Linked DNA regions of Homo sapiens: region 2 is linked to region 1. Evidence: fine-mapped QTL for protein levels in blood plasma. Region 1 holds a variant in brackets. A gene starts in the other region. All regions are shown on one strand. Distances are from middle to middle.

Region 1 (2,844 bases):
ACCCCATCCACAGCTGACCCAGCCTCTGTCTAGGATCTAGAATCATAACCCACACAGGCCCACTGCAGGACAGGTGGCAGAGGAGCTATTTGGGACAGGAGTCAGTTCTCCCTTTCTGCTATCCATCACTTATAACCCCACAGGCCAGAGGAGAGGTCCTGAGAGAGGTGACACTTCAGGGACCAGAGGCAGCACGAGGGCTGGCATCTCTCCTTCCAGCCCAAACTGCACAGCCCCAACCAGGTTCCCAACACGTGTAGCAGTCATCAGCCATTCCTTAACAATGAATGTGGTACCTGGTTAGTGCCAGCCTTGGGAAGGAGGGAGGGAGGTAAGAGGGGCTTGGTGATCTCTGGAGGAAGAGTGTTGCCTTTGCTGTGGTTGGGGAATCGATCCTTGGCTATGGCCTACCCACTCCCCTGGCTGAAGAGTGCCAATCATTACAAATCAGCTTCAGCAAACTGAAACAAACCTTCTGGTGCCTTGGGCTTTGGGGCCCTCTGTTTTCCTGCTCCCAGTCTGCCTGCCATACGTTAGACAACAGAAGCTGCTGGGCTGGGCAGGAGCCCTGAGCTGCCTGGTGGATTGGTACCAAGTGGGGCCAGCCAGGGCTTCTACTGACTCGCTGTGCAACCTTGAGCAAGCCCCACTAGGAACGGCTAGATCAGCAATGCCCCAAATTGTTGAATCGTGGTGATCACATTTGGATGGACAAGTTAGGAAACTTAGCTGATTCTCTGAGATACTTCCCACTTCCTCATACATTCTACAATGAGATGCCTCTCTTCATGGGCCTGGGGAAAGGATGAATGAGTGTGGCTGGACTTTTGACCTTTAATGTCCCTGAGCAGTTCTTGGCCCTTGGGGAGAAGTAGGGGGAGGATCTGGCTGACTCAGCCCCAACCGAGGGGTAGCAGCTGCAGCCCAGCCAAGCAGAACACCCTGGCCCTACAGACCTGTGTCTGAGCAGGCTTTGGAGGAAAGGCCACTTCTGAGTCCTCTGTCTCAGGAGAAGCCAGGCCTAGGTGCTTGACCTGGTGATCTGAGCTGTGTTTGTCCTAGTATGGGTGGCAGTCACCTCTGAACACACTGGCCTTGGCTTAGAGGAGGCTTGTGACTTCAGCTGTTCCAGCTGGGGCTGGATGCTGGACTCTGATTCCCTCAGAGAGACAGAAGATCGGGCAGAGGTCAACCAGAAGGCCACACAGGGCAGTGGACAACAGTGGAGGGTATACCAAATAGAAATAAAA[C/T]GCAGGAAACCTCTCTGAATACTGCCCTTGGGGACCTCAGGAGGGAGTGGGACTGATTGGAGACAAAGAGCCAGAAATCATCCCCTGGAGATACTCAGACACTGTATTGTTATTGGCGCTGTCCTGTGAGGGCAGTGTCCAGGCTGCCCTGCTTGTCATATCCATGCCCTGGCTCTGGCCCCGGTGAGCACTTGTGCTGCATGAGGAAAGGAGGATCAGGTGGGGTCAAAACCAAAGCATCGAGGCTGGCACTGGCCAAGACAGACTCTGGCAGGGAGGGGAGTGGAAGGAAGGAGCCCCAAACCTGGAGTGAGACCTTTGACTTTCTGATGATGTGGCCAAGAACTAGGAGTCACCTGGCCAGCACAGCCAAGAGTGGGGCTGGGGGCGCAGCCAGCTTTAAGGTGTCAACACCTGGCCCTTGCGGGGAAAGAGCCTTCAGCAGCCCCCACGGCCTGGAGCCTGGGTTTATTGGAGGGTGCTTTCTTACCCTCTGAACCCAGTGGAGGAGGGGGCAATGGGATATTCCTGCTCTGTATGGCCTCTGGGTCAGCTTTTTGTTGCAAAATCCTATCCCCCGCTGCTAGATTCTTTGAAGCAAGGGAGAAGCAATAGCCCAGCCTCAGAATGATTCTCAGGAAAGCAATTCCACTGCCAGTGGACTGGGTGCCAGGAGGCCTAGGTCTGGATCTGGGGCTGCCACTAATGACAGGAAAGTGGGCTTATCCTCAACCTTTCTGAGCCTCAGTGTCATTATCTGTAAAATGGGGATGATAATACCAGGTAGAGTTGCTCTGATGACTGGAGACCATGGAGCGGAGTGTTTGGGAAATGGCAAAGATTTGTGAGGGCTTCGTGCTTTAGAGATTTGCTACCCTTAACCACCAGCATCAGCTCACCTGGGAATCTGTAAGAAATGCAGAGTCCTAGGCCCCACCCCAGATCTCCTGATTTTAACAACATTCCCAGGTGACTTGGATGCATGTTAAAGTTGGAGAAGCTGCCCTAAGTGACAACCCTTTGCCTTTTCAGGACTTTGCCTCTTTCCACAGAGCTGCAGGTTCTGTCTAGGCTGCTTTTACTGCCATGGGGGCTGCCTGGTCCCTGAGTAAGCAGTGGGTAGCCCTGGATGGCTGAGGGGCTGGGGAAGCCAGCTGGGCCAGACCAGGAAGGAGCCTGAGGCACAGCACCAAGGCATGGGGTAGGGTGGGCTTTGAGGCACGGCCTCCCCATGCCCAGACCCAGGCCCAAACAGGAGGCTCCTGTGCACCAGCAAGTGCAGCAAAGCTGGCTGCAGTGACAAGGAAGTCAGAGGGAGGGCTGGTTTGCCTCAACCCTCGCCCTGGATGTGGCAAAAGATACCACACCGAAGGAAGCTGTAGGGGATCTGGGACTTAGTCAGGCTAGCTAAGGGCACTGAGTGATTACAGGGCAAGGCCACAGAGCGGCAGGAAGTTGTAAGTGCAGGGGCCAGGCACAGTCTGAGTGGAGAGCCATGATGGCACTCATCCCTGGCTGGCTCCTGGGCCCAGGCCCTTGCTCAGAATACAGTGCCCAGGCCCGCCTGGGCATTGCCTTAATTCCTGTCTGAGGC
Region 2 (2,896 bases), 40 Mb before region 1:
AGCAAACACATATTTCACACTTATTTAGGATGAGTTAGGAGCTCTTCTAAGTAATTTATACATAGTCAAGTGCCACATAACATTTTAGTCAATGCAACAGTGGTCCCATAAGATTACAATACTGTATTTTTACTGTATGTTTCCTATGTTTAGACACACAAGTACTCACCACTGTGTTACAACTCCCTACAGCATTCAGTAGTCGCATGCTGTACAGGTTTGTACCTAGGATCAACAGGCTATGCCATGTAGCCTCCGTGTGTAGTAGGCTGAACCATCTAGGTTTGTGTAAGTACACCCTGATGTTCACACACACAGGAAAATTGCCTAAGGATGCATTTCTCAGACGTGACACATAATTGTACTTCAATTCATTTAAGTCTCATAATAACCTTAGGAGGTAGGTTCCATCATTATCTTCATTTACATTTGAGGAGACTGCAAAGTCCCGAAGAAATCTTACACTGAACCACGGGGAAAAGAACTCTGGTCTGAACCCACAAGTCAAAGTATGTCTGAGGGTTCTCAATTCCAGCAAGGGAAGGGAGGGGGTTAAAGAGTAGAACTAACTTACATGGGAAGCTTTGCTGCCTGGGCAAGCAGCTTCTGGTGGATTTCCTGAAATTCAGCAGGGTGGGGCCGCCTCTCCAATCAGACTTCACTTTACTATACTATGGGGTCATTAAATAGAGGAGCCAGGAGTTCAGGACTCCCTCCCTCTTCTTCAAAAGGAAAACTGGGTGTGGGGAGGGTACATTACCTCACAGAATATTGGAGAAAGCCTAAATGTGTCCTCCAGTGATTCATTTGGGTGGACTACTTTCACACCAAGCTAAACTCAAAAGTTCGGAGTGGGGTCATCAGGGCCCCTCCCTCCCTGAGTGCAAGAAACATTTCCTCTTTTTAAAGTACAGGCAGAGTTGGAATCAAACTCCTTCCAAACAGGAAATCAGCAAGATTCTAGGTAAAACTGATACCTTACTTTTAAAGGTCAAGCTCTTTCCTTCACCAAGAGCGTGTTTCCTGAGCACCTACTATGTGCCAGGCATGTGGTAGGTAGTTGTTATGAATCTTGATGTGCCCTGCGCTCTGCAGGGGGGCGGAGGTGGAAGGGAACACAAAGAAAGAACAGATACCAACACTGCCACCCCCGCCTCCCCCCACCCCCCCCCACACACTCATTTGGCAAAGCTTACAGGAAAAAAAGGGTTTTAGGGGGCTTGTGGTGGTTTTTTTTTCCCTAAAAATAATAGAAATGGTAAAAAGAGGCTTCGGACCCCTCGCGTGAGTCCCTTAAAGTGACTGGATTGAGACCTGGGCAGGGAAAGTGGGAGGCCCGAGCGAGGGGGAGGGCGCAGGCAGTGGGTGGGTGACAAGGTGCAAGGGCAGCGCCGGCTTCGGATCGGGAGTTGGCCGTCAGCTGCGCCAGAGGCAGGTGCCAGCGGAGAGTGGGTGGGGGTGCCGGCGCCAGGCCAGGCTCGGGGAGGCCCCGCGCTACCTCTGCCTCTAGGAGTCCAGGCGCACAGACAAGCTCCCCGGAGCCGCTCCTGCTTCGCCAACTCCCCACTCGCGCCGCCCGTGCCAGCCGCCGGCACTGGCGTCTCCGCCGCCCGCAGGAGGAGTCGCGGGAGCACTAGCAGCCGCCGCCGAGCGACAGCATCCTCAGGAGAGACGCCCCGGGCTTTGCAGCCGGCGGCCTCCGTCCGCCCTCCGCGGTCGCCCCCCGCCCCGTCGCCCGTCCGCCCGCGGTGGCAGCCGGCGCCGGCGCCCCGGGGCCCTTCACCTGCCGCGAGCGTCCGGGCGGGCGGGCGCACGGGAGAAAAGGCGCAAGAAGCGGGCACCCCGGGAACCCCATTCCCTCGGCTCACTCGGCGCGGAGAAGCGACGCCCGCTGACTCCGAGAGCCCCGGTGCTCCGTGCACCTGGTCCCCAAGTTGAGGAGCGACACCCCTCCACAGGGGACTAGCCCGCGCGGGGAGCATTCCGGTCTCACTGACCCCGGCCCACCCGCGGGACTCCAGGCACCTCTTCTGCCCGCACCCCGCGACCCCTCCCGGGACCCCGGAGACAGCCGGCCTGCCCCCGGCGTCCCCCTTGGCCAGCACGCCATGCCGGGGCTGCGCCGGGACCGCCTACTGACTCTGCTGCTGCTGGGCGCGCTGCTCTCCGCCGACCTCTACTTCCACCTCTGGCCCCAAGTACAGCGCCAGCTGCGGCCTCGGGAGCGCCCGCGGGGGTGCCCGTGCACCGGCCGCGCCTCCTCCCTGGCGCGGGACTCGGCCGCAGCTGCCTCGGACCCCGGCACGATCGTGCACAACTTTTCCCGAACCGAGCCCCGGACTGAACCGGCTGGCGGCAGCCACAGCGGGTCGAGCTCCAAGTTGCAGGCCCTCTTCGCCCACCCGCTGTACAACGTCCCGGAGGAGCCGCCTCTCCTGGGAGCCGAGGACTCGCTCCTGGCCAGCCAGGAGGCGCTGCGGTATTACCGGAGGAAGGTGGCCCGCTGGAACAGGTGAGGACCCCGCCCGGGACGCGGGAGAGCGGGCGCTCTGGCCGGGGCCTCCCCGCGCCCCAGTCTCGAGTTTCCTGACGCCCCCGGCCCAGGGCTGCAGCGGCTCCACCCACGGCTCCAGCCCTGGCGCTGGGCTTAGAGTGTGTTCCCCACCCGAACCCCACCAGCTGTTGCAGACCTCACAGTCCAGTCCCGGAGTCAGATAGTACGAGGAAAAAGTTTCTATTGCAGCCGCACAGCGAAGAAACGCTCTCAGCCCCTTCCCCTTGAGCGCCTGGGTCGTCGTTGAGCCCCACTCCTGCTCCCTCGTCCACTCCCGCTCCCTCGTCCGCTCCCAAACCCCACTCTCTGTCCTGATGTGGAGGAAAGCTGCCGCTGGACTTC

Which allele goes with the higher level. Alleles are on the strand shown, and positions count from the first base shown. The strength of an association depends on the size of the effect and on how common the allele is.
In carriers of allele C in region 1, the plasma level of the protein whose gene starts at base 1,408 in region 2 tends to be higher than with T alone (strong association).

The links. PIP is the chance, under the fine-mapping model, that this variant and not a neighbour inherited with it causes the effect. The UK Biobank Pharma Proteomics Project read protein levels with antibody pairs (Olink). The fine-mapping took linkage between variants from a reference panel, not from the people measured, so its PIPs are less certain.
Region 2: it holds the start of FAM20A, and the variant in region 1 is fine-mapped to the plasma level of the FAM20A protein (UK Biobank, PIP above 0.99).

Annotation. Positions count from the first base shown.
Region 1 is chr17:28,396,656-28,399,499 of GRCh38, reverse strand. SARM1 (sterile alpha and TIR motif containing 1) reads right to left here. Exons shown (of 9, transcript NM_015077.4): 9 at 1-2,844. SLC46A1 (solute carrier family 46 member 1) reads left to right here. Exons shown (of 5, transcript NM_080669.6): 5 at 1-2,844. Among named protein-coding and RNA genes, the nearest start is that of SLC46A1, 8.1 kb to the left of the region's middle. RefSeq lists enhancers at 915-1,004, 1,769-2,452. The variant C/T (reference allele first, on the strand shown) is at 1,251.
Region 2 is chr17:68,599,879-68,602,774 of GRCh38, reverse strand. FAM20A (FAM20A golgi associated secretory pathway pseudokinase) reads left to right here and starts at 1,408. Exons shown (of 11, transcript NM_017565.4): 1 at 1,408-2,512. The coding sequence starts at 2,109.